4 linked regions of the Homo sapiens genome follow. The protein of the gene in region 2 purifies or fractionates together with the protein of the main gene of each other region. This does not show direct contact. Each region holds a gene or a part of one and is shown on either strand. Other genes may lie near its edges.

Evidence for each region.
Region 1: the proteins of TNFRSF13B (region 2) and ZNF579 purify together in Homo sapiens (co-immunoprecipitation; 3 studies listed by BioGRID and IntAct, with this or other methods). This does not show direct contact.
Region 3: the proteins of TNFRSF13B (region 2) and RBM26 purify together in Homo sapiens (co-immunoprecipitation; 3 studies listed by BioGRID and IntAct, with this or other methods). This does not show direct contact.
Region 4: the proteins of TNFRSF13B (region 2) and TNFRSF10B purify together in Homo sapiens (co-immunoprecipitation; 3 studies listed by BioGRID and IntAct, with this or other methods). This does not show direct contact.

What each region holds. Positions count from the first base shown.
Region 1 is NC_000019.10:55,577,849-55,585,706, forward strand, and holds the start of ZNF579 (zinc finger protein 579), read right to left. Parts: upstream 3,001-7,858; 5' UTR 2,947-3,000; intron 2,295-2,946; exon of another isoform or gene 1,794-2,294; 5' UTR 1,792-1,793; coding exon 103-1,791; 3' UTR 1-102. UniProt on the Homo sapiens protein: May be involved in transcriptional regulation.
Region 2 is NC_000017.11:16,968,939-16,976,943, forward strand, and holds the start of TNFRSF13B (tumor necrosis factor receptor superfamily member 13B), read right to left. Parts: upstream 3,181-8,005; 5' UTR 3,138-3,180; coding exon 3,077-3,137; intron 1-3,076. UniProt on the Homo sapiens protein: Receptor for TNFSF13/APRIL and TNFSF13B/TALL1/BAFF/BLYS that binds both ligands with similar high affinity. Mediates calcineurin-dependent activation of NF-AT, as well as activation of NF-kappa-B and AP-1.
Region 3 is NC_000013.11:79,318,872-79,326,827, forward strand, and holds part of RBM26 (RNA-binding protein 26), read right to left. Parts: intron 3,592-7,956; coding exon 3,478-3,591; intron 2,431-3,477; coding exon of another isoform or gene 2,332-2,430; exon of another isoform or gene 1,840-2,331; coding exon 1,750-1,839; 3' UTR 1-1,749. UniProt on the Homo sapiens protein: May be involved in the turnover of nuclear polyadenylated (pA+) RNA.
Region 4 is NC_000008.11:23,065,643-23,073,450, forward strand, and holds the start of TNFRSF10B (tumor necrosis factor receptor superfamily member 10B isoform 1 precursor), read right to left. Parts: upstream 3,390-7,808; 5' UTR 3,253-3,389; coding exon 3,109-3,252; intron 2,779-3,108; exon of another isoform or gene 2,587-2,778; intron 1-2,586. UniProt on the Homo sapiens protein: Receptor for the cytotoxic ligand TNFSF10/TRAIL. The adapter molecule FADD recruits caspase-8 to the activated receptor.

The sequences.
Region 1 (7,858 bases), on a different chromosome or scaffold from region 2:
GGGACGGGTGGGTAGACAGAGGAGGTGGCTCCTTCAACTTCCCTCCTCCATTCTGCAAACCGGGGAGCTCAGGCGGAGCGGCGGAGGGCAGGGCGGCGAAGGTCAGGAGGCCAGGCCCCCCAGCCCGCGCAGGTGAGCCTTGCTGTCTACCTCTTCCTCCTCCATCTCGAAGGCTGAGTGGTCTTGGCTGTCGAAACAGGAGGCGCTGAGGAAGACAGGGGGAGCCGGCGGGGACTGGGGTGGGGTCCCCGGAGAGGGCGGCTCTTCCTTAATGTTTGCGAGGGGCAGCGGGAGCCCTTCTTCCTCCTGCTCGGCCTTCAGGGGCGGCGGGGGCGGTGGCGGCGACGTCGGGGCCTGGGCCTGCAGTGCCTGCAGCGCGGCGGCCCTCTCCAGCTCTGCGCGGTGGCAGCGCTGGTGGCGCAGGAGGCTGTAGGCGCGCGAGAAGCGGCGCGGGCAGCGGGGGCACGGGTGCGGGGCTGGGCCCCCCGCGTGCACCTGTGCGTGGCGCGCCAGGTCGGCCAGGCGCTTGAACTCCCGCTGGCAGCGCACGCACTGGAAGGGGCGCGCTCCCGAGTGGGTCACCCCGTGCTGCCGCAGGTGCGCCCGGCGCCTGAAACCTTTGCCGCACTCTGGGCACCAGAAGCGGGGCTCCCCGGCGGGGGGCCGAGCCGGGGCGGCGTCGCCTCCGTTCTGCCCTTCTCCCCCTTCCGAGGCACCCCCGCACTCCGCCCCCTCGCCCCCCTCCGGCCCCTTGGCTGAGTTCCGTGCACCCGAGGCCTTGTCGTCCTTCTTGCCCGCCGCGGGCAGCGGGGCCAGCAGGCTGAGGGGGCCGTGGACGCGGCGGTGCTGGCGGAGGTAGGAGGCGAGGCGGAAGGCCAGGCCGCAGTCTGGGCACACGAAAGGGCGGTCGGTGGAGTGGACCAGCCGGTGGCGCGACAGGGACCAGGGCCTGGCGAAGGCCTTGAGGCAGATGGAGCACTGGTGTCGCTTGGGGCGTGGCGGGGGCCCCCCTTCCCCTTCCTGTTCGCCCTCGGGGCGCAGACACGGGTGCGCCTTGAGCTCGCCCTTGGTGGCGAAGGCTTCGCGGCAGCGCAGACACAGCAGCGTCCAGTCTGCCTGGAGCAGGACCTGTTTCTCCTCCTGCCGCCCGGCCGCCAGCGCCAGCTCGGCCCTCAGCTCTGCTGCCCCGGCCTCGGCCTCCTCCGACTCCGACTCCCGGGGCTCCGCGGCGCTGGTGGGCGCAGCCAGCGTGGAAGGCTCCCCCGCAGGCCACGTCTCAGGCCACGCTGCGACCGCCTCCTCCTCCGTGGCCCCTGCTGCAGCGGTGGTGGGCGGCTCCGAGCCCTCGTCCTGCGGGCCCCAGCTGGGTTCGGCCGTCTCCTTGGCCACCCTCTCGATGGCCAGCTCGACCTCGCCGCCCGCGTGCTCCTGAGCCAGGTGGCGCCTGAGCTGGGCCGGTTCTGGGAAGGTGCGGGGGCAGGCGGCGCAGCGCAGCGGGGGCTGGGGCCCGTGGCCGCGCAGGTGGCGGGAAAGGTGGGCCGGCCGGCGGAAGGCCTTGGGGCACAGCGGGCAGGCGTGGGGCCGGAGCCCCGAGTGGCTCAGCCGGTGCCGGGAGAGGTAGTAGGGGAAACGGAAGAGGCGGCCGCAGGTGGGGCAGGGCAGGGGCGCCCTAGGGGCTCCAGCGCCCCCCCTGCCACGGCCACGGCCCCGACCACGGCCTCGGCCACGGCCCCGGCCTCGGCCACGGTGAGGTGGGCTGCCCTGGGCGGGTGGAGGAGGCTGCGGATCCATGCCTGTGGGGAGAGAGGGGAGAGATGGGAAGCGGGGCAGAGATAAAAAGAGGTGCGTGGGGTGTGGCAGAAAGAGAAGCAGAGACAGTCAGAGATGGAGAGGCAGAGAGGGTCAGGTATTTAGCCAGGAGAGAGATATGAGACAGAGACAAAGATGAGAGACACCGAGGGGAGGCCAGAGATGGAGAGACAGGAGGAGAGAGATCAGAGACAGAGCGACAGAGCAGGGAATAGAGACAGGAGAAGGCAGAGATGGGAGACACAGAGAAGTGGGGATGGACAGACAGAGACCAGGAGTCGCAGAAAGACAGGATGGTGAAAGGCAGAGCAGAGAAGAGACAGAGGAGAGTGAGGAACACCCAGCAGAGAGACAGAGACACAGAGAAGAGGAAACAAAGAGACTTGGAGAACCAGAGGCAGAGATAGTGCAAGAGCAGAGATCAGAAGAGCAGTGGCGGGTTGGGGGCCGGAGAGACAGGGAGACAGAGACACAGAGGGAGTGAACTGGGCAGAGGCACGGAGGGGGACAAAGTCAGCGAACCGCTTCTGCTCCAGGTCCCCCGGCCAGGCTGAACGTTTTGGGAGGGGCTGGGACACAGCCCATGGGGCCTGAGTGGAGGGGGTGGGATTTGAAGCCGGTAGGCCCCGGAAATAGAGTGTGTTCTCAGATGCCAGGGGCTGGGAGAGGTCGGGGAGTAGGAGGGTTCAGACTTCTGGTCTGAGTTGGGAGGGGGCTAGGGGCCCAGACTCTTGGGACTGATGGGGATGGGAGCTGGGGATTGAGACTCCTGGGTCCAGGTCATGACGGATTGGGGAATCTGGACTCTGGTATGGAGGAGGTGTGGATTCCTGGGTCCCGGTGGAGGAGGGGCTGGGGAGGGGGCTGGGCTCCCAGGACAAGGGGGAGGCGGGGGCTGGGGACCCAGCTGCCGGGAATCCCCAGGGAGGAGGCGACTGAGGGCCGGACCCCTGGACTCGGGAGGGAGGCTGGTGGGGGTCGGGGGTCCCAGGTCCTAGAGGGGGGCCGATCTCCTCCGGGCCAAGCCTGCAGCTCCCCGAAGGCATGATCAGCAGAATTGGGGCCGGGTCGAGGCCTTGAGGATTTCTCAGCCCTGGGCCTGGGGCTTGGTCCTGGTCGCTGGGGCTGGGTTCTTACCTCGCCTCCTTGGCTCCTTTCTTCCTTCCCCACGGCCGGCCAAACGCGGACGGTGGTGGCGGGGAGGGAGGGGGGCCTGAGCGTGGTGGGGGGTGGAGGAGGAGGCTGGGCTCGGTGTCACTGCCTAAGCCTTCCCCCCGGAAACCTGGCCTTTCCTCGGAGCCTGAAAGAGGAAAGACTGGCTGGGAAGCCGGAAGCGGGAGGACGGGGGACCTGGAGAGGGGAGGGAAGGCAGCTTGCACTACAGGGTCCTGTGAGGGGAGGGGGCTGGGGGCCTGTCCCCCGGGCTCCCAGAGGGCGGAGGGTGCTGAGGGCCTGGAACACTGGGTCCAGCTACTCCCGGCTCCCCAACATGCACACACACATATTCATTCATTCCTTCAACAAATACACATTTATCAGGTCCTGTCTGTGCCAGGCACTGTGTCAGGCCAGGGGAGTGGCCGGGGGAGGAAGATGAATGAATCAGTGACAGAGGCTTCAGGAAGTACTGGCACTCTGGATCAGAACCTGGCTCCAGCCTTCCCTTGGCTGTCTGGGTGAAGGATTCTCCCACTTCGAGCCTCGGTTTCCCCCTTTGTGAAAGCCCCTGCATATACTCATTCAACCCTAAGCGACCAATATTTACTGAATATCTACTACGGGCCAGCCTGCATATATTTGTCTACATATACGCATATTCACTGGGACCTTAGCAGCCAATGTTTACTGAGCACCTACTATGGGCTGGTGCTGTCCTTGGTGCTGGAGTCACAGTGGCAAAAACCGGAGCTCACTGTCTGATGGGGAAGGCAGATAGATACGGATCAATCACGCTGGAGTGCATGTGGGGGAACGTGTGCTCCGAGGCAGGGAACTGCTATGGGAATGCAGAGAACAGAAGGCACTGAGCTGAGCTCACACTGGGAGGAGGTGATTCCTGAGGTCTTCCTGGAGGCAGCAATGTTTCAGCTGAAATTGGCAGAATGAAACCAACCTGGCGACATCTCAGAAACCTATTCTGGAGCAGAAAAGGCATTTTGCAGGAGTATACCCACAGCTTGACGCTGTTTGTTTAAGGTTACATTCCTGCCAAACAGTGCTAATGAGAGTGCGAGCAAACAGGTCCTTTCATACACGGCTGGGGCAAGTAGAACCTGGAACATTCTTACCGAGCCAGCAATTCCAGGAATTTATTCTTCAGAGGCATCTACTCGGAACTGCACAAAATAATGTCTGCACCAGGTTAATCATTGCAGTACTGCACATCACTGCAAACAGCTGAAACCAATCTAAACACCCATCTGTAGGAGAGCTGAGTAATAAATCATGACTGATCCACCCAGTGGAATACTAGGTGTCCATAGAAAAGAACAAAGAAGCTCACCGTGTGCATATATGGTAAGTCTCCAAGTGATAACCTGTAGAAGAGAAAAATGGAAGGTCAAGTACAGCCTGCAGCCTGTTCTGGGTTTGTGTGTGTTCTGGGATTGTGTCCAGATGAACTGGAACAAGAGAGAAGAAACTGAAACTGGCAACATAGTCTAACTTCCAGGACAGAAATTTACTACACTCTATCCTTGTTTTTTTGTTTGTTTGTTTTTTTTTGTTTTGTTTTGTTTTCTTTTGAGATGAGATCTCCTTCTGTTGCCCAGGCTGGCTGGAGGAAGTGCAGTGGTGTGATCTCGGCTCACTGCAGCCTCGACCTCCCGGGCTCAAGCAATCCTCCCACCTCAGCCTCCTGAGTAGGTGGGGCTACAGGAGTGTGCCACCATGTCTGGCTAATTTTTGTATGTTTTGTAGAGATGGGGTCTCCCTATGTTGCCCAGGCTGGGCTTGAACTCCTGGGCTCAAGCAATCCACCTGCCTCGGCCTCCCAAAGTGCTGGAATTACAGACATTAGCCACTGTGCCCGGCTTTTTGTACTTTTTGAATTCAAAACCGTGTGAATGTGCTATATACTCAAAAAAGTAAAGGAGGCCAAGCATGGTGGCTCACGCCTGTAATCTCAGCACTTTGGGAGGCCCAGGTGGGCAGATCACCTGAGGCCAGGAGTTCAAGACCAGCCTGGCCCACATGGTGAAACCCCATCTCTACAAAAGGTACAAAAATTAGCCAGGCATAATGGCACATGCCTATAATCCCAGCTACTCAGGAGGCTGAGGCAGGAGAATGGCTTGAACCTGGGAGGCAGAGGTTGCAGTGCGCTGAGATCGTGCCATTGCACTCCAGCCTGGGCAACAGAGCAAAACTCCACCTCAAAAAAAAAAAAAAAAAAAAAAAGAAAAGAAAAAAGTAAAGGAAAAAGAAATACATGGGGATTATAAAAATAAATGAAATGAAAAATAATAGCTTACTCTTGTGAGCGTATTACAAATATGATCCCATTTACTCCTTGCTTTATGAAGTAGGTACCATTATTTTTCCCTTTTACAGAGGATGAAAGTGAGATACTAGAAGTTTCCAAACCTAGCGAGTCTCAGTAAGAAGTTTCACTTCACAAACAGATAGGAGAAATGATAGTGGATCAGAAGCATGATTTAAAAGAAATAATAAAAGGCCGGGCGTGGTGGCTCATGCCTGTAATCCCAGCACTTTGGGAGGCCGAGGGAGGCAGATCACTTGAGGTCAGGAGTTCAAGACCAGCCTGGCCAACACGGTGAAACCGTCTCTACTAAAAATACAAAAATTAGCTGGGCATGGTGGTGCGCGCCTGCAATCCCAGCTAGTCCGGAGGCTGAGGCAGGAGAATCGCTTGATCCTGGGAGGCGGAAGTTGCAGTGAGCCGAGATCGTGCCACTGTACTCCAGCCTGCGACAGGGCAAGACTCCGTCTCAAATAAATAAATAAATAAATAAATAAATAAATAAATAAATAAATAAAATAGGAATGGGGTCTCACTCTGTTGCCCAAGCTAGTCTTGAATTCCTGAGCTCAAGCAATCCTTCCACCTCAGCCTCCGAAAGTGCTGGGATTACAGGCATTAACTACCGTGCCCAGACTAGGAGCATGCTTTTTAAAAGCACCTTGTCCATAATACTATATTTTAAAGAATATATACCATGGAATAAAAGTCTAAAAATGTCTGTGGTAATAATAGGCACCAAATTCAAGATATAAGTTATGTTTGAGATAGGAGAGGCAATCAGATCTTGGAGGGGGTGGTCCGCGGGGAGTCATTTGTATCCCTAATATTTCAAAGCTGGTAGTCAGAATATGGGTGTGTGTATTTTAACATGTTTTTTGTAAAATACACTTAAACTTTATAATTGTAACCATTTTAAATCACACAGCTCAATGGCACTAAGTAAATGTTGCACAACTATCCACGCTGTCTAGTTCCAGAACTCTTTTTTTTTTTTTTTTTTTGAGACAGAGTTACACTCTTGTTGCCTAAGCTGGAGTGCAATGGCGTGATCTCGGCTCACCGCAATCTCCGCCTCCTGGGTTCAAGCGATTCTCCTGCCTCAGTCTCCCAAATAGTTGGGATTACAGGCATGTGCCACCATGCCCAGCTTATTTTGTATTTTTAGTAGAGACAGGGTTTCTCCATGTTGGTCAGGCTGGTCTCAAACTCCCGACCTCAGGTGATCCACCTGCCTTGGCCTCCCAAAGTGCTGGGATTACAGGCGTGAGTCTCTTTCTTTCTTTCTTTCTTTCTTTTTGTAGATATGGGGTTTTGCTTTGTTCCCTAGCCTCATCTGAACTCCTGGTCTCAAGCCATCCTCCCACCTGAGCCTCCTAAAGTGCTAGGATTACAGGCGTATGCCACCATGTCCAGCCTAGTTCCAGAACCTTTTCATCAGCCCAAACAAACCCTAAGCCCATTAGCAGTCATTCCCACACTCCCTTCTATCCCCAGCCCCTGTCAACTAATAATCAGTTTTCTGTCTCTATGAATTTGCCTATTCTGGACATTTCATATCAATGGAATAATCATACCATATGTGTTCCTTTGTGACTAGCTTCTTTCACTTTGCATAAAAGTTTCTCCTCCTCCTCCACAAAGGACATTGCCCCCCTCTTTTTAAAAAGTGAGACAGGGTCTTTCTCTGTCGCCCAGGCAGGAGTGCATTGGTGCAATCACGGCTCACTGCAACCTCCACCACCAGGGCTCAAGCGATTCTCCCACCTCAGCCTCCCAGATAGCTGAGACTACGGGCATGCACCACCACGCCTGGCTGATTTTTGTTTTTGGTAGAGATGGGATCTCGCCATGTTGCCCAGTGTGGTCTTGAACTCCTGGGCTCAGATGACCAGCCCACCTCGGCCTCCTGAAGCACTGGGATTACAGGCGTGAGCCACCTCACCTGGCCAGCATAATGTTTCTAAGCTTCATGCGTGCCATGGCATGAGTTGGTTCTTCACTCCTTTTTGTGGCTGAATAGTATTCCTCTGCGTGAGTGCAGTCATCCCTCGGTGTCCGCAGGGGATTGGTTCCAGGACTCTCCTCAGATTCCAAATCCCTGGGTGATCGAGTCCCTTACAGCCTCCTATCTGAGGGTGCAGAACCCACGGATGTGGAGGGCCGCTGTCACCTACATTTTGTTTATCCATTCATTTGTTGATGGATATTTGGGTTGCATCTATCTTTGGGCTATTGTGAATAGTGCTGTTATAAACATTGGTGTGTAAGTTTTTGTTTGAACAGCTGTTTTTAATTCTTTTGGGTATATACCAAGGATGTGTGTACTATTTTATCATCTATATTTTGAAGGCTTGAAAGATGGATGAGGAGGAGAAATAATAATGAATTCAGGAATGGAGGTGATAGAAAAGAAAACTTTAAGCAGAGAGCACAGCACATGGAAGGGGGTTTGCGCTCTGCTTCCCCAGCACATGGCGGGGGATGGGGTTGGGGGTCTTGCATTAGGGCATAAAGGAGGCCAGTGTGGCGGAGAGAGGCCAGAGCTGCACCCAGCGACCGTGCCGG
Region 2 (8,005 bases):
ATGAAAAGATGCTTAACATCATTTGTCACTAGGGAAATGCAAATCCAAACCACAGTGAGATACCACCTCACACCCCTTGGGATGGCTAGAATGAGAAAGACAGTCAATGACAAATGTCGGTGAAGATGTGGAGAAATTGGAACCCTCATGCATGAAGTGAATTATAAAATAGTGCAGCTGCTTTGGAAAGCATTTTGCAGTTCCTTAAAATGTTAAACATAGAATTTATCATATGACCCAGCAATTCCACTTGTAGGTATCTATCTACTTAAGAGAAATGAAGACATGTTCACCCAAAACTTGAATCCAAAAGTTCATAGAAGCTTTCTTAATAATCACAGTGACAAAAAAAGTAGAAACAACCCAAATGTCCATCCACCGATGACTGGAAAAGCCACATGACATATCCATAAAGTGGAATGTTACTTGGCCACAAAACTGAAGCAAGTACTGATACCTGCTACAACATGGACGGCCCTTGAAAACATTATGCCAAGTGGAAGCAGCTAGTCACAATACATCACATATGATTCCATTTATGGAAAATGTCCAAAACAGGCAAATCTATAGAGACAGAGAGTAGATTAGCCTGGGGCTAGGGAGGAATGAAGACTGACAAAGTTTCTTTTTGGGGTCATCAAAATCTTCCAAAATTAGCTTATGGTGATGGTTGCACAACTCTGTAAATATACTAAAAACACAGACTTGTATGCTTTACACAGGTGAATTTCATGGCATGTAAGTTATATGTAAATAAAGCTGCTTATTCTAGGGGAGGTGGGAACTGGGCAGATGGAGGACAAGGAGGAAGAAAAGACTTTCTATTATATATCTTTCAATACTTTCTGGGTTTCAAACCATCTGACTATACTATCTATTCAAAGGCAAATCTAAAATCAAAGGATCAAACAAAATTAAAGGCAGACCCGATTCTCCCCACTTTTGGGTTGGGGAGCAAAGAGGGAGAAAGCCACCACCCGCCGCATATCACCGTGAAGGGTTGGTTGAGTGGAAGGTGGGCAGGACGTTCTATGTGACAAGGGCAGCCTTGGAGATGTTCCAAGACCCATTCATTGCCTGGACCAAAGCCACCAAAAGCCACTGGACCTGACAGAGAGACAGTGCCTGACTGACCAGACAGCAGATGCCAAGCTGACCAGAGGGCCTGTCCCCGCCCCCTCCTCTACCACCATGTGGACCTACATAAAATCCCAGAACCATCATCAAGTGCCAAAGGAGGGCAGGAAAACCCCATGACTGACACCAGCCAGGCAGAATAGAAGCTTGAGAGAGAAGCTTCGTTGATGGAAAGGGAAGAAAGGGAACACCTCTCTGACACTAGCTGTGTGGGCTGGGCTCAGACTCTGGGCCGCCACAAATTTGGATGCAGGATGGAGACTCTCTCCTGCACCCCGAGACCAGAGAGCAGCCAAGGAGGGTGATTCTCAGAGCCCTCTGCTTGTGCCTCCTCACGGGCTTGGCCGGTTAACAGGTGCTGCACCAAGAAAGAGCTCTGTGGTCGGATTAGTTTGAAAAACACTGGGTTAAAGAAAGTCAAGGCAGTTTTTTAACCGCAGGGCTTCTCAGAGCCTTTCCTCATGACTCCCCAAGAGGGGGTCTGGTAGTTTCATCAAAGCACTTTTGTGTGTTTGAGGGATGTCTGGTAGGAAAGACAGTCTTCTTCATTTTACACTGAGGGGAAGCGGCTCAGCCAAGGTCCCAGAGTGGGCCAGTGGACAACCGGCCAGGGCTGATTCGGCAGCACCAGACAGCTTCTGCCACTGCCAGGTCACAGTTCTAGCTGGGTCCTGACTCGTGGCCCCAGAGCACTGGGCAATTTCATCCTGTGTTAAGGCAGCCTCTGGTCACTGCCTTGTCCAAGTCTCTCAGAAACTTTACATATTTGAGCCCCTGGCTGTGTAGATTCTGGGGACTTGGTGGCTGGACACAAAAAAGGACTGAAGAACAAATTTGCTCCCTGCCTGAGGTGTGGGACAGAGCAGCAGGCAGAGGCTGTGAATCTAGGCTGTGCCCCGGGTCCATCTGGCCATGGGTTCTGTCTGCACTAAAGGACCTGGGGCCCTTTCATAAAACCTTAGAAACCCACCCTGATGAAAATGCTATACGGGCCGGGTGCCGTGGCTCATGCCTGTAATCCCAATACTTTGGGAGGCTGAGGCAGGTGGATCACCTGAGGTCAGGAGTTTGAGATCAGCCTGGCCAACGTGGCGAAAGCCTATCTCTACTAAAAATACAAAAAATTAGCCGGGCGTGGTGGTGGGCACCTATAATCTCAGCCACTCGGGAGGCTGAGGCAGGAGAATGGCTTGAACCCGGGAGGCGGAGGTTGCAGAAAGCCGAGATCATGCCATTGCACTCCAACCTGGGTGACAGAGCAAGACTCTGTCTCAAAAAACAAAAACAAAAACAAAACAACAAAACAAAAAAAAAGAAAGCTATAGGATAAATATAAATATAAATATATAACAGAAAAAATGGGTGGAAACTGTTATAGATTAAAACATAGCCAAAAGTCTAATGTGGGACAGGCTGATTTGAACAAGTCAACTGAGAAAGACATTGGTGAGACAGTTGGTACAGTTTGAACCCTGGCGGGCTATGTGATGATGTTCAGGAATTGTTGTTTCAGCAGGGGTGAAGGTATGATGCTTAGTTTTTTGTTTTGTTTTTAGGGTTTGTGTTCTTAAGGAATAAATCCTGTGGTCTCCACAACTCAAACAATCTGGTATTTGAGATTAGCATTAAAATGGTCCAGCGGGCATGTAAGGGGGAAAATGGGGGCTGTGCAGGGGCCATGGTGACAAAGGGAATTCCTGCCGGTGTGGCCAACCCTGCAACCTCAGTGGCTTCTGTCACGGAAGGCAAGCCCCACATCCCAGAGGCATCCAGACTCGGGGCTCTCCATGTGCAGGAGCTTGGGGAGGCTGGGACTGCCCCAGTGTGTGGATCTGCTGTGGGCTTTGCACCTGCTGGACCTTGCAACCCCCACGGCACTCAGGCCCAACCCTCCTCACACCTCCCACCTGCCCTCCTGCCCTCCTGCCCGGCTACTCACAGCGCTCCTCCTGGTCCACACGGCTCCGGCCACCTCGCCTGCTCCGGCCCAGGCCACTCATTACTCAGGATGCTTATTACTAGTCTTAGATTTGATTAGTGCTTGGGCTGCACTTCCTGGGTTTTCCCCTCAACCTGTTGGATGTAAATCAGCCACACCCACTCCCGCCCCCATGCCTGTGCATTGGGTCTCAGGAGCCCAGGTGGGTGGCTGCGGCCCAGGCTCCTGGCGTCCCATGGGGTACACACAGAGCAGTGGAAGGCCTGCCGGGCCTTGCGATGAGGTATTGACTATGGGATGGCCCAGGCTCTTCTAGATCTGGCCTTGGCCATCCCTTGGTCCTCATCTCCTGCCCGCCGGCACACACCCCAAGCCAGGCCAGCTCTCCACCCTCCCAGCATCACTCAGGCCTTTCCCTCTTCCTGGGTATACTTATTCTATTCATTGCCTGGTCGGCTCCTCCTGCTCTTCCTTCAAGGCTCCATTGAGGTGTCACCTCCTCCAGGAAGCCATCCCTGACTGTCCCAGCCTGTCAGGTGGTACTCATTCTCTGTATCTCCTTGACCCTCTCCAACACCTAGCAGAGCACTGGAGAGGCTGAACCCCAGGACCGGACAGCCTGCGTTTGAATCTTGACTCTGCTGCATACTAGCAGAAGGCCTTGGTGGCAATTTATGGAACTCTTCTGTGCCTCCATGTTCTCTGTGTAAAACAAGGATGAGGTCGGGCATGGTGGCTCACGCCTGTAATCCTAGCACTTTGGGAGGCCGAGGCAGGTGGATTGTCTGAGCTCAGGAGTTCGAGACCATCCTGGGCAACACGGTGAAACCCCATCTCTACTAAAAAAAAATACAAAAAATTAGCCGGGTGTGGTGGCGCGTGCCTGTAGTCCCATCTATTTGGGAGGCTGTGGCAGGAGAATGAACCTGGGAGTCAGAGGTTGTAGTGAGCCGAGATCGTGCCATTGCACTCCAGCCTGGGCAACAGAGATGCCATCTCAAAAAAAAAAAAAAAAAAAAGGATGAGAACATTGCCCGCCTCACAGGCGGTTATGAGCATGAAATGAGGGAGGGAGCACAGTTACATTCTTAGAGCAGGTTCTTGGCACACAGTAAGTCCTCAATAAAGGCCGTGGAGGAGGAACATTACAGCCCGTATTGCACTGCATGGCGACTGCACTCCTGTGTCTTCCCCATCGTCTGAAACCTCCCAGGGGATGGGAGGCCCAGCAACAGCCAAAGGCGGAGTGAGAGGAACGTAAAAGCCAAAGAAAGCCCATGGGCCCTTAGGAAGAAACTGAAGGACGAGGAGGACATGGAGAGGTGGAGAGGAAGGAGGGAGGCTGCAGGAAGCAGCTGGAGCAGGGTGATGGTGCACAGAGCAGGAGAGGAGATGCAGACGGTCAGCAAACACAGGAAAATGTCCAGTCTCCCAAAAATCAGAAAAACAACTGAACAATGAAAAACTAACTTTCAGCCATCAGGTTGCAAAGTTTTAAAGTTGGTAACATCAAGGGCAGGGGGGTGATCTACAGAAGCATGAACTCAGGGCCCACTGGAGGGAGGGAGCTGGCAGCAGCGTTCTGGAGAGTAACCAGCCAGGGTCAGTTAAATGCACAACACACACCTAACCCACCCCCCAGAAATTCTCCTCCTCCGTGAGCCTCCTCATGACAGCGAGAAACGGGAAACAATGTAAATGTCCATGCAGCAGAGGATGCCTGAATAAGCAGGGTGCACAGGCCAGAGCCAGGAATCTATTGCACAGTTAAAAGAATGAGAAATCTCGAAGCTTTCAGGACAGACGCTGAGTAAATAAAAGTAGCTTATAGCATGAGCCTTACAGCATGATGCCTTTTAGTAAAACAAAACCAAAAGCAAACAACATGCACACACACACACACACAGTACAGCGCTGTGTTGTCTGTGATCACGCACACATGACTGTGAAGCATAAGAAGTCTGCAAAGACATGCATGACGAAACTGGCTCTCGCCGGGTGGGGCAAGAGGGAACCAGGACTGGGGGTGACCGTCAAAGGGGACTTTAGCCCTATTTGTAGGGCTAAACATTTTACATTTAGGGCTTTTACATTTGTAGGGGTTTTACATTTAATTACTTGTTTACATTTAATTACTTGTGTCAATGAACAGTGACAAAACCATAGCTGGGCTCTGGCAGTGGATTTCTAAGAGAGAGGTAAGAAAGAGATCCCATTGCCAGGAACTTTCTGCCTGTTGAAATGGGCAAGCCCAAAGTCACTACAGGATGCCCTCACTGAGTCCCCCCTCACCTCCTGTTTGCATACCCCCAGGGTCAGGGCTCTCACCACCTCACGGAGCAGCTGGCTCCCTGGGGGGTAGCTCTGATGGTTAGAAAGCTCAGCTCTAGCCTGGGCAACATAGCGACCCTGTCTCTATAATTTTTTTTTTTTTGAGACCGAGTCTCACTCTGTTGCCCAGGCTGGAGTGTGGTGGCGTGATCTCAGCTCACTACAACCTCCACCTCCTGGGTTCAAGCGATTCTCGTGCCTCAGCCTCCTGAGTAGCTGGGACTAGAGGAGTGAGCCACCACTCCCGGCTAATTTTTGTATTTTTATTGGAGACAGGGTTTCACCATGTTGTCCAGGCTGGTCTCGAACTCCTGACCTCAAGTGATCTACCCGTCTTGGCCTCCCAAAGTGCTGGGATTACAGGCGTTAGCCACTGCACCCAGCCTAATTTTTTTTTTAATTAGCTGGGTGTGGTGGTGTGCACCCGTAGTCCTAGCAACTTGGGAGGCTGGAGGATTGCAACACTGGGCTGGAGCTCAGGAGTTCAAGGCTACAGTGAGCTATGATCACACCACTGCACTCCAGCCTGGGCTACAGAATGAGAACCTGTCGCAAAAAAAGGAGGAGGAGGAAGAAGAAGGAGAAGGAGAAAGAGGAGAAGGAAGGAGAAGAAGGAAAGACAGCAAGTTCAGCTTTGTCCAGTGAGCAGACTGTGCTTCCAGACTGTGCTTCCATGGGACTGAATGCTGCTCTCTGCAGCCACACACATTGTCCTGGAGTTTTAAAGCCAATACCTGTTATGCCTGAAATGAAAAACAAACAAAATCCAGCCTGATTTGGGGAGTGGCTGAGAATTGAATGACAGAGTTCCCTAATGTCTTACTGCCAATCACAGCTTGTTAATGCTTTTGCTCAAATGCAGTTTACAGAGAATGGATTTAATTTGCTTTCTATTTTCTTTAATTAGATGGTGTAATTTACAGACAGTGAAATGCACCCTTTTAAAATGGGAAGTTCAGTAAGTGTTCTCATACATGCACACCCAGGCAACCACAACTCAGATCACAACTCAGAGCATGCACAGCCCCCAGAAGGTCCCTCACTGCCCCTTCCAGCCAGCACACCCCACTCCATCCCCAAGAGAGTCACAATTCTGACTCCTGCCACCACAGATTCATTTTGCTTGTTCCCCAAACTTTGTATAAATGGAAACATACAAATGGGATCGTTTCATGAAACACAAAAATAGATTCCCCCTCTGCACTGGCTCCCCCAGAAGATTGAACAGGTGCTGGAGGTTTCTAAAGCTCATTCTGAGACCAGCCTTTTTTTGAGCTGTCTCCCAAGAGGATGCGGGATTCTAATTTTAAGCTCCACAGCCAAGGTGACAGAAGAGATTTAGAACCCAGAGTAGAGATAACTCATATACCTTAAGGTTTTGGACCTGGTTCATTTATATATGTATAATTAGCGAGTTAAAATGCACACATAGTAAAGAAAAAAATTCAAGCAGTAAAAGAATATGGCGGAAGTAAATTTCTCTCCTGTCTGGTTATCCTAGGCCCATGATGTCCCTACTCAAAGGCGGCAACCCTTAGTGGACCTTGTTCATACAGCCTCCCAGCAAAGCCTAGGCATTTCTGAGCATGTGCGTGTCGCTAGAGGATATATTTCACCTCTCCCTCCCCCTCCATACCTTTTTTTTTTTTTTTTAACACAACTGCTGGCTTATACAGATCAAGGTTGCTGTTTAGCATGCCACCTTTTCCATTTAGTATAGCCTGCCGGACAGTTCTTAGCTTTTGAAATGAACTCCTACAGTGATCATTGGGAGTAACAACAGGGAAAACTTAGGGCACTGTTCTAAACACGTAACATCTGCTCATTTAATTCACATTTTACCGTCTTTGTCACCTTGAGGGGCATGAGCTCCTTAAGTTAAATTGTTTGAAGAAAGGCAACACTGGCCTGTTGATCAATATTTCCCAGGGAGATGGTTCCACTCTGCACTAGCATGTCCGTGGTATTTTGGCCCTAAAGACCCACATCCCTGCAGGTGCTGTGGTCTCTTTGAGCTCCCTCATGTCTGCCACCTACTCCTGGTCCCTTGAGGCCCTGCTGTTGAACCTCCTCTGAGACAGTTCTGGGTGTAAAACAAAAGGAAGAGTCTCCAAAAGAGGACATTTCTTAGACATGCAGCGAAAGCCCTCATTTTCATTATTGCCATTTACATAGATGACTCAGATGTGCTGAATTTCCTGTTGCTAATGTAGCTGTACATTTGTGCTAATTTCTCAGAAATGCTAGATACCATTATTTTAGCAAAACTCACTTTGAAAAAGCAAAGAGCAGGGTTTAAAATAATAATAATAAGGGTCCCCAGTGTTCTGTGGGAAGATCTAGTTTCTCTACTTTAAAATGTTTCCCTCCTAACTTTTTATTATGAAAACTTCAAAACTTCAAGAAAGTTAAAATTATAATGAAGACTCAGGGACCCTCCACCAAGATTCAGTAGCTCTTCACCTTGGTGTCTGCATGGCTCCATCCATCTCTGTCTCTTCCTGCCTGCCTTCTGGCTGAGACCCTGAAGGCAATTTGCAGACATCCCGACACTGCAGTCCTAAGTGTGTCCACAAGGCACCTCCTAAGAAAATGGAC
Region 3 (7,956 bases), on a different chromosome or scaffold from region 2:
CACGACTACTAAAAAGAAAAGAAAACAAACTTACCTAATGAATCAGAATAGCACATAGTCAACATACAAGAGACTACATAAAAATAGATCTTTGATTTAAATATATAAGTAAAAATAGTGACTTTTTGAGCAAAGTCACTATTTTGACAACTGAAATCTGATTTTGAAATTTTAAATATAAACGTAGACACGAATTGCAAGGCAAAGCATTTCTATGAAATAGTGTTACCATCAAGAAAATACACACAACTTCAACCCCAATTAGGGGTGTATGGGGAAGAAGAAAAAGAACAGCATCCTTAAGTTACTCCACTGGCAGAAGACTATGGTGGTGGTGGAACAACAGCTTTTGATTGTGAGGACCCCAATATGGAAGAAAGTAATTTTTTAAATGTGATTTTTTAATATTATCACTATAATCTCAAGAGAGGCAGAAACACTTGCAATCAAAATGATGAATTTGAAAATATAAATATGTAATCTCCCACCCCCATTCTACAAAGAATGCATTTATTTCCTGGAAACTGCCATATCAACTTTCAATGATCATGTTCACTTGCAAAAGAAATCCACTTAAAAAAATCACAGTATTGTTGCAAACATCAAAGATTTTTATACAAGTATAGGAAGTACACACTTAAAATATCAGACTGGAACACTTACCAAACAGTGTTTTCCTAAAGTAGTATCTATAGTACATTTCTTTATTCATATATCTTCAAATGGTCAAGTTTTCTTTCATACATCCAAAATGTAATGTGATGTTTTCTTATTCACCAAATGTTAGCTCTACTTGCAGTCTGGTTCCAAACTAATCAGCCTGCTTTTAAATTTTAAGACATTTGTTGAAAATTTATAGGATCAAACCAAACTCAAGTGGTATAATTTTTAAACATTGGATTGTACATTATTGTAAGGGTACCAGTAACCATTATTATTAAGAATAAGTTAGTGATTATAGCTCCTTTTGTGATAATTGGGGGGAAGGGTAGATCACCATCTGGAATGGTCTATTTTAATTTTTTTCTTTTCTTTTTTCTTTTCTTTTTTTTTTTAAATCAAGGAACATTGTCTTGGCTTTTTTTTTTTTTTTTTTTTTGTCATTGCTTTTCTCTTTTCTTTCCTTTTTTTTTTTTAAAGAGACCATTCCACTTTATTATAACATCTGGATGCATAAGGACTCATGTAAAGCAGTCATACACCATTATCATTAAAACCCATATGGTAAAATACATACACAGTCCAACAAAAGGCTAATACATAGTAAAGCCTAAGCATACTACTATGTAATATTATAATACATAACTTGGAGACTTTAGTTAGAGTACTATGTTATCTATTCAGTTTTGAAAACATTCATTAAGATTTTAAATGCAAATTCATTCCTTATTTGGAATAAAACAAAGTCCTCTAAGTTATAACAAGTATTGGTCATAAGTTTTCAGACCTATTCATTAAATTACAAAGAACCCAAAGAATTCTGTGATGTCCAGTAGAAGTATGTAATAAAAACATTGCATATGTTTCTAGTGTGATGTCTTTAGCAATTGTTTACTGAAGTAAAATGCAAACATCAATCTTTCAAAATACAAGATCAGAAGGTAGTTTTCTTCTTTTTTGTCTATTTGTGAAATCCATCTTCATCACATTTTACCAAAAATTGTTTTTACAAATATGTAAAAGTACATTAGATAATACTAATGAAACACAGGTAGAGTTCTAGCATATGCAGATCAATGATCAGTCAAATCATCTTCTCCAAGAACGAGATTCATTGTCCTCTTCTTCTTCATCATCATCTTGAAGTAATGAGTCATCCACCAAAGACTCTTCCTGAAACTTTAGGTTAAAATGTATTTAGGAATTTACCCAAAAAAAAAAAAAAGAAAAGAAAAAAAAGGTGACACTTTTAAATACTCATCTCTCTCAACAGAGTTGAATACAAAAGGTATTTTTATAGCTAGAACATTCACAAAACAAAGAAAAGCAACATTTAACCACTCAATGGTTTCTCTATATGATCTATTCTATTGCTTGCATGAAACACACTAAACAAATATCAAATAAAGCCTTTGTACATGCCATTTTTTCCTGCCTCTCTTTAGCAAATTACGCCATCTTCTGTACCTTTAAAATATTGGTCAAACTTTTTAAAAAAGAAAACAGTAAGTTTTCTCTAATTTACCCTCCTAACCTTGAATACTAAAATCAACCAATGACTTGTATAAAATTCTACCAAGATTTATATTTATATTTATTTTCTGCTGTATGCAACAAACATTTTCTATTATTGCATTCCTTTCTTTTCCCCATTCCCTTCATAAACACTTCTCAGACTGCTATTTCAAACTTTTCAAAATACCTAATACCAGGAGCTCTCCTGCTTTTCTCCCCATTCAATTCAAACTCATGGAAGGACAAAGGTATAATCTAAAATATAAAATGACAAATCATGTATATGAGTTTCAAAATATACATTTTTATTCTTGCATTTGACTATGGATATGTATAACAGCCTTGAAATGCTCTTCAAACAAAATGAAGTGCCATTATGAAGGTAAAACATGGAATTATTTAGTTTTCCCACCTTACCTTTATTTATTAACTTAAACTTTTTCCTAAAGTTTATTTTGTGATTAAGTAAGAGTTGCTTACTTTTAAGTTTTTGGTTTCAAAGGCCTCTAACACTTCACTGGCCCGTACCTCTTAGCCATCAGACTAACTGCTGTTACTCAAAGAAAAATGCACACTTTCATTTTTCCTGATGCTTATCCCTCCATCTAAAATACCTCTCAATTATATTACCAGCTCCAGTTCTAGCTTATGAAGCTGTTTTACTGCTTAGGGCCCAGTTCCACTATCAATACCTCCTTTAAAATTTTTGGGATGGAAACAATCACTCCTTCCTCTGAGTTTCCAGAGCATGTTGTTCAAATCTTTATTCAGCGTTATCAGTCTGCCTTTTATTGTAACTAGTTTCTTATGTGTCTGCCACCACCCCCCTTTTCAGATTATAAGCTCCTTGATGATAGATAGGGACCGTGTCTTATTCATTTTTGTGCCTATGACAGTATCTACCATATAACAGGCATTCATTCTAATGACTAAAATGATAAATGAATTAAAATAAAGGAAAGCTGAAATGTTAATAAAGCAACTGAGAATAGATTATCCTAAAACTTAAAATATTACAAGATTTCCTGTGGATAAAAATCTAATGAATAATCATTGTCTCTAAGGGTAAATAAAAATTGAGTATATATATATGATTTTCATATATTCTTTTTGAATTAGCAATCCACATTTCTTCTCATTATCCAGAAAATTTAAAGTTGTTTGCATTTATCTGATATCCCCTGCCTGGACTATGGGTCAGGAATAAAAGTTTTATGTTAAAATCACGGCCATAAAAATCACATTTTATATAAAAGCTATGAACGATTAAGGGTAAAAATAAGTGGAAAAAAAATAACATACTTCTTCTTCATCAGGCTCAACTTCTTCTGTTTCAACAGCTGAAATATTAGTTACTGGTTTATTCCATGCCAGTTTTAGATCTTGCCCTTTGAAACGAGCTCCATGAACTGCAGCCTAAAATGATTAAAAATATTGGAATATAAGACATTAAAAATTTCTGAAGAAAAAAATAAATGTCATAGTGCCTAACATTAAAATTAAAATAGCTAAAGACAACTGAAGATGGCTATCTGCCCATTTGCTTTTTGATTATTTACTATTCAATTTACTATTATTATAATTTACACTTTACTTTTTATGGTTATTTACTCCTACAATCAGACTAGTAATTGCAAATTCCTTTAAAAAGAAAACAAGAATAATTTCTCATAATAAAATATAGCTATTTCACTACTGGCCAATATTTGACTAAAAGAAATATGTCTACATGTTTATAACACAATGACAACTGCTGTTTAAGATGACAATCCCAAGGTACTTCAAGATCCTAGTTTTAATGTCTGAATCAATGTCTAAATTAGGATCAATATGCTAAATATATTTTATTTCAATTACTGTTCATTTACAAATGGTATATAATTATTAATCTTTAATAATAATTTTGCATGTGTAAAGTATATTATTTTCAAATTACATCAAATGACCAACTACCATAAAATGTTTATTATAAAACTAAAACAAAATATAAGTGTCTCAATGAAAGGAAAAAAAACCCCTCTGAACTCTTCTATTGAAAAACAGTTTTTCCTACCAAACTTTTATAACTGAATATAAAACGTGAACTTAAAAAATAGTCATGTCTAAGTACTTGCTATATTAAGTGGCTGGTTTGGAAACTGCATTCAAATTAGAGTAACATGAACTAAGGTAAATCAGTGTTAGCAACATATTGCCAAATAACTTATACTCACACAAGATTTATAATACAATCTCAAAGTACAGCATAATGTGAAATGTAGAAACAATTACATATTCAATGATATTTGACATAAGTTGTGTGGTATTAAAATCCCCAGGTATAAATTTTAAACCTGCACATATAAATTTATGATAAATTTAAAAGATTTCATGCCTGTTCAAATGCTGCTCAGAGAATTTTTGTCACAATGTCATACAACTAGAATTTTTTTAAAAAGTACTTATATGTATTTTAGTTCCAGGACAATTTGCAATTTTTTGAAGCTATCACTGTTACATAAAAATGTATCATATTCTATAAGGAATTCCAACTGTTTAATGCAAAATACCTACTCATAAAACTCATCCTTACATTCAGCTAAAAAAAATTCACCTAAAAAGCAAAAGAGTTACTGACATTTTCAAAAATAAGTTACTGACAAAAATTTCTGATGATCTAACTTTACACATCTCTATATTCAGCACACAGCTCCTCAAATCTATAAGATGAGGCTACAACTTTCTAAAGTTTCAACTTTAATTACAAAATGATTTACAAACTTTTTATTAACATTGCTCCATTACAAACTTGAGAATTAGGCTGTGTAAATTTTTGAAAGAACTGAGTTTTTGCTTTGTAAAGATGTAAATTTACTCAGGAAAACTAAGAACTTCTGATGTTATAAGAAACATATTCCATAATTACTTTCATTTTGATAAAACTATTGTTTTATATTAGAAAAGTTCAAGAAACCAATATTTCAGGTAATTGCAACATAAAATCTTTAAAGTTTAAACAATTCCTTCTGTAACCCACCCATTTCACTTTTTACAAAGATTCAAAATTTCAGGCCACGTAATGTAAAAAAGCAGTCCATGATTATCCCTAGCCCTAAGAGATAACCACTATTCTGTGAGGAATTCGGAGTTAAATCCTACATATATTTTTCTACACACATACTGAAAGAACTTCTGTATATAAATATGTATGGTATGTATACGGAAACATACTAGTTTATAACTTCATGGTTAAATTATTAACCCAATTCTTTTCATAAATATCTCTCGATGTCCATACCAATAAATGTCACTTTTCTTGAATGGCCATATATATTATATATTTAGCATAATTAAAGCAATTTCTACAGATATGAACAATCTTGTGTATTTGTACATCTTGTGTGACTTTCTATTAGAAGTGAAATGTTTGACTTTTTTCACAATCTGGCCTGCTTGTATTTTTCTAATTGAATGAAGTTTGGTGATATTTTGGGCAAAATATTTTCCCCGATTGGATTTTGATTTTATGATGCACCTTTTATTGGAGAGAAAGGGGTTGTTGTTGTTCTTTTGTTTTTGTCATCAACAAGTTTTAAATTTTTCATGTACTGGAATTTACCAATATTTTCCTTTATGAATATCGTGCCATACCTTAAAAAGCCCTCTCAATATTAAGACTATTTTTTTTAAATCCCTAGGATTTTACTATTTAAAAAAAAGAATTTTGTAGCATGTATTAAATGTTTTATGTATTAAAAAAAGAAAAAAAATTCATCCAATTTAATTTATTTGGATATTTAAAAAAGACATAATGCTGTCTTTTTTCCAAATAGCTAGTCAATTGCCCCAACATCATTTACTGAATAACTTGTTTTATTCCTTGATTTAAAACAACTCCTTTGTGATCCATTAAAATCCTCATAAAGTCAGCCACCACAGAACAATGTTTTGGTCAACAATGACTATATACAAAAGTGGTCCCCTAAGATTTTAATAAACCTGAAAAATTCCTATTGCTTAGTGACCTTATAACTATCATAATACATTACTCACATGGTGATACTGGTGTAAACAAACCGATTGTGCTGCCAGTCCAGTCATATAAAAGTATGGCACGCACAATTATGTACAGCATAATACTTGAATATGGTGGCAAACGACTGTTACTAGTTTACATATTTACTATACTATACTCTTTATCATTATTTTAGAGTGTACTCTAATTTTTTTTAAGTTAATTATAAAACAGCCTCAGGCAGTTTCCTCAGGAGGTATTTCAGAAGAAGGAACTGTTATCGTAGGCCTCAGCCTATAATACACACATTGCCTATGACAGCTGTGTGTGTGTTACTGCCCCTCAAGACTTTCCAGTGGGACAAGACGTAAAGGTAGAAAACGGTGATACTGATGATTCTGACCATGTTTAGACATAGACTAATGTATGTGTTTGTGTCTTAGTTTTTAATTAAAAGTTTAAAAAGTAAAACATAAAAAAATGTTAAAAATAGACAAAAGCTTATTGAATAAGGATATAAAGAAAGTATTTTTGTACAGCTGTGCAACGTGTCTGTTTTATGCTAAGTGGCGTTACAAGAGTCAAAAAGTTTTTAAAAATTGTAAAGTTTAAAAGTAAAAGCTAGAGCAAACTAAGGTTAATTTATTATTAAAGAAAGATAAAATGTTCTTATAAACTTAGTATAGCCTAAGTGTACAGTGTTTATAAGGTCTAAAGTACGAGTTTATAAAATACGATGGTAATGTTCTAGGCCTTTACATTCACTCACTAACTCACCCAGAGCAATTTCCAGTCCTGCAAATGCCATTCATGGTAGGTACCCCATACAGGTATACCATGTTTTATCTTTTATACCCTATTTTTACTGTACCTTTTCTATGTTTAGATATGTTTGCCTACACAAATACTTACCATTGTGTTACAAGTGCCTCAGTATTCAGTATAGTTAACACAATGCCAGAGTTTCGTAGCCTAAGACCAACGGGCTATATACCATAGAGTGTAGGTGTGTAGTAGGTTATATCATTTATGTTTGTGTAAATACACTCTGTGATGTGTACACAACAATGAAATTGTCTAACAACACATTTTTCAGGTCATATCCCTCTTAAGTGGCACATGATTGTATAAACTTAGGTCTATTTCTGAACTGTATTGTACTACATTATCTGCTTTGTACTGCTTTTAAACAGTACGAATAATTAATGCAAATAACTTTTTAAAGTATGCTATGGCAGTGCTTCAAGAGTTATGCATGTACTTTAAAATTCCATTAAAATATATTTTTAAAAGTGAACTGTATAGCCATTTATAAAATGTTAAGGAACACCATGTTTAAATGTGCTCTACAGGATGCCTACTTGGGCTAGGACGTAGTGGTCAAAAAGGTGAAAGTGGACCTAAATGTAAAAATCCACAAAATATGAAAGGGGGGGAAATAGTATCAGATGAAGATAAAATTTGCTTCCCAATGCAAATGTAGCTGATAATCTAGATTAAAAAGATAATTTTTGAAAAAACTACCAAAGTACCAAACTAAAGCCAGCAAAGATAAACTTAAACAAATCATTTCTACAAAACAGCCTGTAAAAAGACACATTTAATCATTAGATACTGATAGTTTCACAAATGAATTCTATTAAAATTTTAAAAAACATATTTCCAAAGCAACTTAAATTATCTCAGAAAGCAAAGAATAATGGAAACTTTCCAATGACAGGTAATAGAGATACCTGACAAAAATATCCCTCCCAAAATTTACAAACCAATCTTACTTTTGAAAATCA
Region 4 (7,808 bases), on a different chromosome or scaffold from region 2:
GGCAACTGAACACAAGGTATATAGTTATATGTAGATAAAAGCTAGTATCAGAGGAGCAAACTGATCCTCAGTTTTCTGTGACCAGAATAATGCCCAATAGACTTTGAAAGAACACAGTGATGTTCGGTACCCAAGAAAGCAAAATTCACAATGTCAAGCAATAAGAAATTACTATGCATGAAAAAAAAAGTCCCTATGGGCAGGAAAAAAAATGTAATCAACAGAAACAGTGGCCGTAATAACAGATATAATGGTGTTGATAGATTAAATAACTTAAAACAGGTCATCTAAAGCTTACAAATATACTCAAGAATATTTAAAAAACAGAAAAACAAAAAACACCACCACCAAAATCATAGGTTGCGCACGGTGGCTCAGGCCTGTAATCCCAATACTTTGGGAGGACAAGGTGGGAGGATTCCTTGAGCGCAGGAGTTTGAGACCAGCCTGGGCAACATGGTGAAACCCCGTCTCTACTAAAAATACAAAAATTAGCCAGGTGTGGTTGCAAGTGCCTGTGGTCCCAGCTACTTGGGAGGCCGAGGTGGGAGGATCACTTGAGCCCAAGAGGTTGAGGCTGCAGTGAACTCTGACTGTGCCACTGCACTCCAGCCTGGGTGACAGAGTAAGACCCTGTCTCAAAAAAGAAAAACACAAAGATGACCAGGAAATAGATGGAAGATATTAAAAATGCCAAAAGAGAACTTCTAAAGTTCAAAAAATATATATCTGATATACAGTAGATGAGATTAACAGCAGGTTAGATTCTGCAGAAGCAGATCAATGAACTTGAAGAGCCCTCACAGGGAAATGTCCAAAGTGAAACATAGAAAATGATGGGGGAAAAAAAAGAACAGATACTAAGTTAGCTCTGATACAAAATCTAACATTCTAACGTAAATATAATAAGATCTCAGTCACCAGAAGAGACAGAGTATTTGAAGAAATAATGGCTGAAAATCTTCCAAGTAGAACATAAACTCGGCTGGGCGTGGTGGCTCACCCCTGTAATCCCAGCATTTTGGGAGGCTGAGGCGGGCAGATCACGAGCCAGACCATCCTGGCTAACACGGTGAAACCCCGTCTCTACTAAAAATACAAAAAGTTCGCTGGGCGTGGTGGTGCATGCCTGTAGTCCCAGCTACACGGGATGCTGAGGCAGGAGAATGGCGTGAACCCAGGAGGCAGAGGTTGCAGTGAGCTGAGATCCCACCACTGCACTCCAGCCTAGGCGACAGAGGCAAGACTCCATCTCAAAACAAACAAACAAACAAACAAAAACATAAACTCTAAAACCCCAAATCCAAGAAATTCAACATAACTCTGTTGTGGCTTTCTTTCTTTCTTTTTTTTGAGTTGGAGTCTTGCTCTTGTCTCCCAGGCTGGAGTGCAGTGGCGCCATCTCTGCTCACTGCAACTTCTGCCTCCCAGGTTCAAGTGATTCTCCTGCCTCAACCTCCCAAGTAGCTGGGATTGCAGGTGCCCACCACCACACCCAGCTAATTTTGTATTTTTAGTAGAGACGGGGTTTCACCATGTTGGTCAGGCTGGTCTCGAATCCCTGACCTCATGTGATCTGCCCGCCTCGGCCTCCCAAAGTGCTGGGATTACAGGCATGAGCTACCAGACCCGGCTGTTGTGGCTTTCTTTACAGAAAAGTCTCCAAGGAGAACATAAACTCTAAAACCCCAAATCCAAGAAATTCAACACAACCCAGTTGTGGCTTTCTTTACAGAAAAATCTTCCAAGTAGAAAGAACATGAAAGTCTAAAGCCAAAAATCCAAAAAATTCTTTATAGAGATAAAAAAAAAACCCCACAACAGAGCAAACAAACCAAATCACTGCAAACCAGTGCTAAGAAAAATCTTTAAAAGCAGCCAGAGACCAAAGATCCACCACCCAAAGAGAGGCAAGATGCCCTGGGGACCTAGGCCCACAGAAACCACAGCAGGAGGGGGAGGCAGAGGCCCCTGTACACTCTCCTCACTAGGACAGTTAGGTCCTCCCTCCACTCAGAGGTGAGACCAAGGACATACTGTGGTGTGGGGCGGAAACAGTGAAAACATGAGGTGTGTAACAATATCCCATGAAACTCCAATGCTTCACACTGACATTCTTCTAGGTCAACACCAGCATTCTCTTGACCTTCCTTTCACTGTTCCTCCTCTCCCTTCCAGCCCCTCTGTACAGTCTTGAGTTAGGTCTAGGCCCACACACTTCCCCACTCTGAGCTGCGGTCTCTTCCTCTGTAAAATGTGATGATTCAGAACCTCTCCTGGCCCCAAGCGCAGTTCCAGGCGCTGAGCACACCATGCTGTTCCCTACAAAGCCGACTCTTTGTCCCTTCCCCATTATCACGGATACTTGCCAAGAGGTGGCAAGAAAGGCTCTTCCCAGGCCAAAATGCAGCTGCTATTATCAAGCAGGTCAGGCCCCAAGTGCCACAACTCCCTTCTCCTAAATCTCGTTTTCCCAAGGAACCCCAAACAATGGCATTGGCGATGAGCGGCCCCGCACGCGTAGGGGCGCAGCCGCTAAGGAGGGGAAGGGGCCTCTCCAGCTGCGCCCGCGACGACTCCCGCGCACGGAACGGAACCACTGGGCCGCAGCGACCACAGGGGAGTTCTTCGCCGGCCGCAGGTTCAAAGCGATCTGCAATGAGCGCCTTTAGGAATTCATTCGAAGGCGCAAAAGAAAAAGAAATTAAGGCAGGAACTGAGCGAGGAAGGAAGGGAGGGAAAGAAAGGAAGAAAGAGAAAAAGAGAAAGAAACAGAAAGTAAGGAAAGAAAACAAAATCAAAGTCCGACGACCTCTCCGTGGCTTCACGCAGCTTACTCGGGAATTCCCTCCTTGTCGCCCTCCCCCACTGGATTCGGGAATTTACACCAAGTGGAGCGCGCGCTCTGTTCCCTGGCGGCCCAGGTCGCTCCTGCCCAACCCGGGGACCCATCTCTTCCCCCGACTCCGACGACTGGTGCGTCTTGCCCGGACATGCCCGGCCGCAGGCGACCCGGGCCACGCACCCCCGCCGTGTCCCCCTCTCTCCCTGCCCTCTCCAGGCGCCAGGCACGCTCTTCCCCAGCCAGGGACCGCGGCGGGGACTCACCAACAGCAGGACCGCGGCGACAACGAGCACAAGGGTCTTGGGGACCCGGGGCCCAGGCCTGGCTCCCCGCGCCTCCCTGGGTCCTGGGCCGTGCCTTTTCCGGGCCCCCGAAGCGGCCGGGGCGTTCTGTCCCCGTTGTTCCATGGCGGTAGGGAACGCTCTTATAGTCTCTCAGGCCCGTGGGTTTCAGCCCTTAAAGTAGATCGGGCATCGTCGGTGTATTTTGTGGGCGCAGAGATTGCGGGGTTCTCCGGCCGCGTGCTGATTTATGTGTCCAGGCTGACTTGGGGCGGCGCGGCTGTACTTTCACTGCCTCCGGGCAGGCGTCATTCGGGGCGGGGCGAATCAGATCCAATGTGCAACTGCAAATTCCACCACAGGTTGGTGACAATAAATAAGAGTCTCGTCAACGCAATCCTCCGCAAGCGCGTCCAAGTGGGGAGGGGAGGGGAAGGGACCGGAACTAACCTTCGCCCTGGCGGCTGCGCCCCGGGCTGTGGTTTGTTTCTGGGTCCTGTCCGCGCCAGGACAGGCACCGAAACTTGGGGGAAATGAGTTGAGGGAGGCACTTGGGGAGTTGACGCCTCCCGGGGTCGCGCGCTTGGCTGTGAACAGGGTCTTGAGGTTCAGAGTCCGCTTTCCAGGCGCGTCTTGATCTTCTCCCCTTCCCAGGGGCACCTGCCCCTTCTGTTCTCTCCTTCTCTCTTCTTTCCTTTTTTCTTTCGTTTTCTTTCGTTCTTTCGTCTTCTTTCCGTCCTTCCTGCTTTCTCTTTCCTTCCTTTCTCTCTTTCTCTTTCCTCCCTCCCTCCCCCTCCCCCTACCTCCCTTCCTTGTGGTTTATTTTTTGAGACAGTCTCTCTGTGGCTCAGATTGGTGAGCGGTGGTGTGATCCCGGCTCACTGCAACTTCCGTCTCCCAGGTTCAAGCGATACTCCCACCTCAGCCTCCCATGTAGCTGGGACTACAGGCCTGCACCACCACGCCTGGCTAATTTTTGTATTTTTAGTAGACACAGGGGTTCACTATGTTGGCCAAAAGACCATCGAACCCAGCTTACACTCACACCTAGTCCACAAATGTGCCTGTGTCCCTGCACCCTTGCTACACTTAGCTTTCATTTGTCACTAGTCTAGGAAATAAAACATGATACATCACATTGTTATGTATTTTCATTCCTTCATGGTACTGTGTCCGGAATTGGTGGGTTCTTGGTCTCACTGCCTTCAAGAATGAAGCCTCGGACCCTCGCGGTGAGTGTTACAGTTCTTAAAGGCGGCGTGTCTGGAGTTTGTTCCTTCTGATGTTCGGATGTGTTCGGAGTTTCTTCCTTCTGGTGGGTTCGTGGTCTCACTGGCTCAGGAGTGAAGCTGCAGACCTTCCCAGTGAGTGTTACAGCTCTTAAGGCAGTGGGTCTGGAGTTGTTCTTTCCTCCTGGTGGGCTCGTGGTCTCGCTGGCTTCAAGAGTGAAGCTGCAGACCTTCAAGGTGAGTGTTACAGCTCATAAAGGCAGTGTGGACCCAAAGAGTGAGCAGTAGCAAGATTTATTGCAGAGGGAAAGAAGGAAGCTTCCACAGTGTTACCACTGCTGGCTCTGGCAGCCTGCTTTTATTCTCTTATCTGGCCCCACCCACACCCTGCTGATTGGTAGAGCGGAGTGGTCTGTTTTGACAGGGCGCTGATTGGTGGTTTACAATCCCTGAGCTAGACACAAATGTTCTCCACTTCCCCACCAGATTAGCTAGATACAGAGTGTGGACACAAAGGTTCTCCAAGGCCCCACCAGACTAGCTAGATACAGAGTGTCAATTGGTGCATTCACAAACCCTGAGCTAGACACACGGTGCTGATTGGTGTGTTTACAAAACTTGAGCTAGATACACAGTGCCAATTGGTGTATTTACAATCCCTTAGCTAAACATAAAGGTTCTCCACGTCCCCACCAGACTCAGGAGCCCAGGTGTCGTCACCCAGTGGATCCCGCACCGGGGTTGCAGGTGGAGCTGCCTGCCAGTCCCGCGCCGTGCTCCCGCGCCGTGCGCCCGCACTCCTCAGCCCTTGGGTGGTCGATGGGACTGGGCGCCCTGGAGCAGGGGGAGGTGCTCGTCGGGGAGGCTCCGGCTGCACAGGAGCCCACGGAGGGGGTGAGAGGCTCAGGCATGGCGGTCCCGAGCCCTGCCCGTCGGGAAGGCAGCTAAGGCCCGGCGAGAAATCAAGCGCAGCGCCAGTGGGCCGGCACTGCTGGGGGACCCAGTACACCCTCCGCAGCCGCTGGCCCGGGTGCTAAACCCCTCATTGCCCGGGGCCGGCAGGGCCGGCCGGCTGCTCCGAGTGCAGGGCCCGCCGAGCCCACGCCCACCCGGAACTCCAGCTGGCCCGCAAGTGCCGCGCGCGCAGCCCCGGTTCCCGCTCGCGCCTCTCCCTCCACACCTCCGTGCAAGCTGAGGGAGCGGGCTCCAGCCTTGGCCAGCCCAGAAAAGGGCTCCCACAGTGCAGCGGTGGGCTGAAGGGCTCCTCAAGTGCCGCCAAAGTGGGAGCCCAGGCAGAGGAGGCGCCGAGAGCGAGCGAGGGCTGTTGAGGACTGCCAGCAAGCTGTCACCTCTCAGTACTACGGATTTTCAAGAATACAGGAGTTTTTGGTACTGGGAGTAGATGACTGGGGGGATCCAGGCAAGACTACAGGGGAGGGCGGCAGAGAAGACTTAATTCCCAGCTGTGTACTTGGAAAACCGTGCTCAGCTGGGGCCAGTCCCTGCCAACCGCCATGCCTGTTAATGGAAATAAGGTCTCCATCCTCAGGCTGTCAGGGTGACTTCAGATGAGCCTGGAGCTGAGCTCAGTTCCGGACCCCAGGTCCTGGCTCTGTCAATGCCGGACTGGTCCAATCTCTATGCCAGGTCCTTCCAACCCCATCCCTCTCTTTATCAAAGTAGGAATCAAGAAGATCCGAAGGCTCAGGCTCTCAGGTTGTTAGAGAGTACTGAAATTGGAGGCTGTGGATGGCTGGGCCCTGCCGTGCTCCCGGTCCAGCTCTGACTCTGGTATGGCCCCAGCTCCTTCCTGTAAAATGAGGGGATAAAAATCTTCAGCAGCCCTGTGTAAACTTCTGCAGGCTCTGTTAACAGGTCTAGGAGGACAAATTGCAGGGCTGGTGTCAGTCACTCTAGACTCTGGATCCCCAGGGCACATGTCCTCCACTCAGCAGAGGCTGCACCTTCTCCTACCTGTACCTCAGTACCAGCTCCCTGAGCTTGAGGCAGAAATTTCTGAAGACTGGGGTGGAGCGCCATGCGGAGGGGCCGTAGAGGAACAGACGAGCCAGAATTCAAATGAGGACGGTGATGGCACTGCAGGGCCACAGCCTGGTTTACCTGCCACTCTTCCAATTGTCTTTCTGTTGGGCACCCAGCCGGTGCCCCAGTTTGAAGAGTGAGCAGGAAAGGTCTCAATCCGTGTGGCCACAGATGGCTGTTCACAGCCTCTACTGAGAGACCACAGTCCCAGTTCCGGTTCTCTGTCCTGCATCCAGAAGTGGCAGGGCAGCGAGGCTCTAGCTTCCAGGTTGGGGATGGGGACAGTGGAGACAGTGCCATGCCCTGAGCCTGTGCTGTTGGGCAGCTGGTGTCCTGCTCCCAGCCAGAGACTGCACATCTTCATGTAGTGGATTTTCCTAACAACCTGGGGACATGAGAGTAGGTTGTTTTCCCTGTTTTACAAGTGGCAAAACTGAGATTCAGGAGCAGTGTCTCCAGCATTTTTGGCCTCACCTTCTGTATAATAGCAGCCATATTTGCACCTCTACAGGGCTAGAGTTCTCTGAGCAGCTGCTTCTCTATTCTCTGTCCTGCACTTGGCCTCTGGGAGCTCGTATGGTTCCTCAGCAGAGTCCACAGGGCCCTCCCTGTGCTACAGCCTGGAGCCTGTCAGGCGGTGAGCTGAAGCCACGACTGCACTCACCTCATGGGTTTGCGGGGAGAATGATTCACCCAGGAAGCAGACAGTGAGCCCTTTACTCTGGGAACACCTGTGCCTGGAGTCTGCTGAAGGCAGGGAGGACAAATGAACCCCATGTGAATCCTACTCCCTGGAGCCTACAGTGTGGTGGGAGAGGTGACACCAGGGGTCATATAACTAATAGGAGGTAGCATGAGGGAGGCCTGAGATCTCACCACCCTTGCCTCCCCCTCCTCCAGAGAGGCTGTGCTGGAGGGAGGCCATGCCATTGCAAGGCCATAGGATGTGGTATTGTTTGCCTGGAAGATGTGGTTTGATTACAGCCACCATTGAGGGTCATGGAGGCAAGCTAAGCTCCCTTTAAGGGTATTTTTTTTTTGGCTGGGCCTGAGAATTAAGTTGACATAAGACAGGTCCACAGGAGAAAAGCACACAAATTAATACAATGCAAGTTTTACATGGCACAGAAAAAGCAGTGAGAGTCAGTTACTTATATACTGAATTAGACCAAGTAACTTGGGAAGAAGCAAGTAAATATGTGGAGGCTAAAAAGATGAGTTATTCTATTCTTTTTTTTTTAATATCTGCTCCTTTAAGGAATAAAAAAGACAAGCTTACCTTTTAAAATATATTTTACATATGTATACAATCTAAATTTATTTTTCTCTCTTTATCCCTGAATACTTTATTATTTTTTTTTTAATTTTTTGGAGACAGAGTCTTGCTGTGTCGCCCAGTCTGGAGTGCAG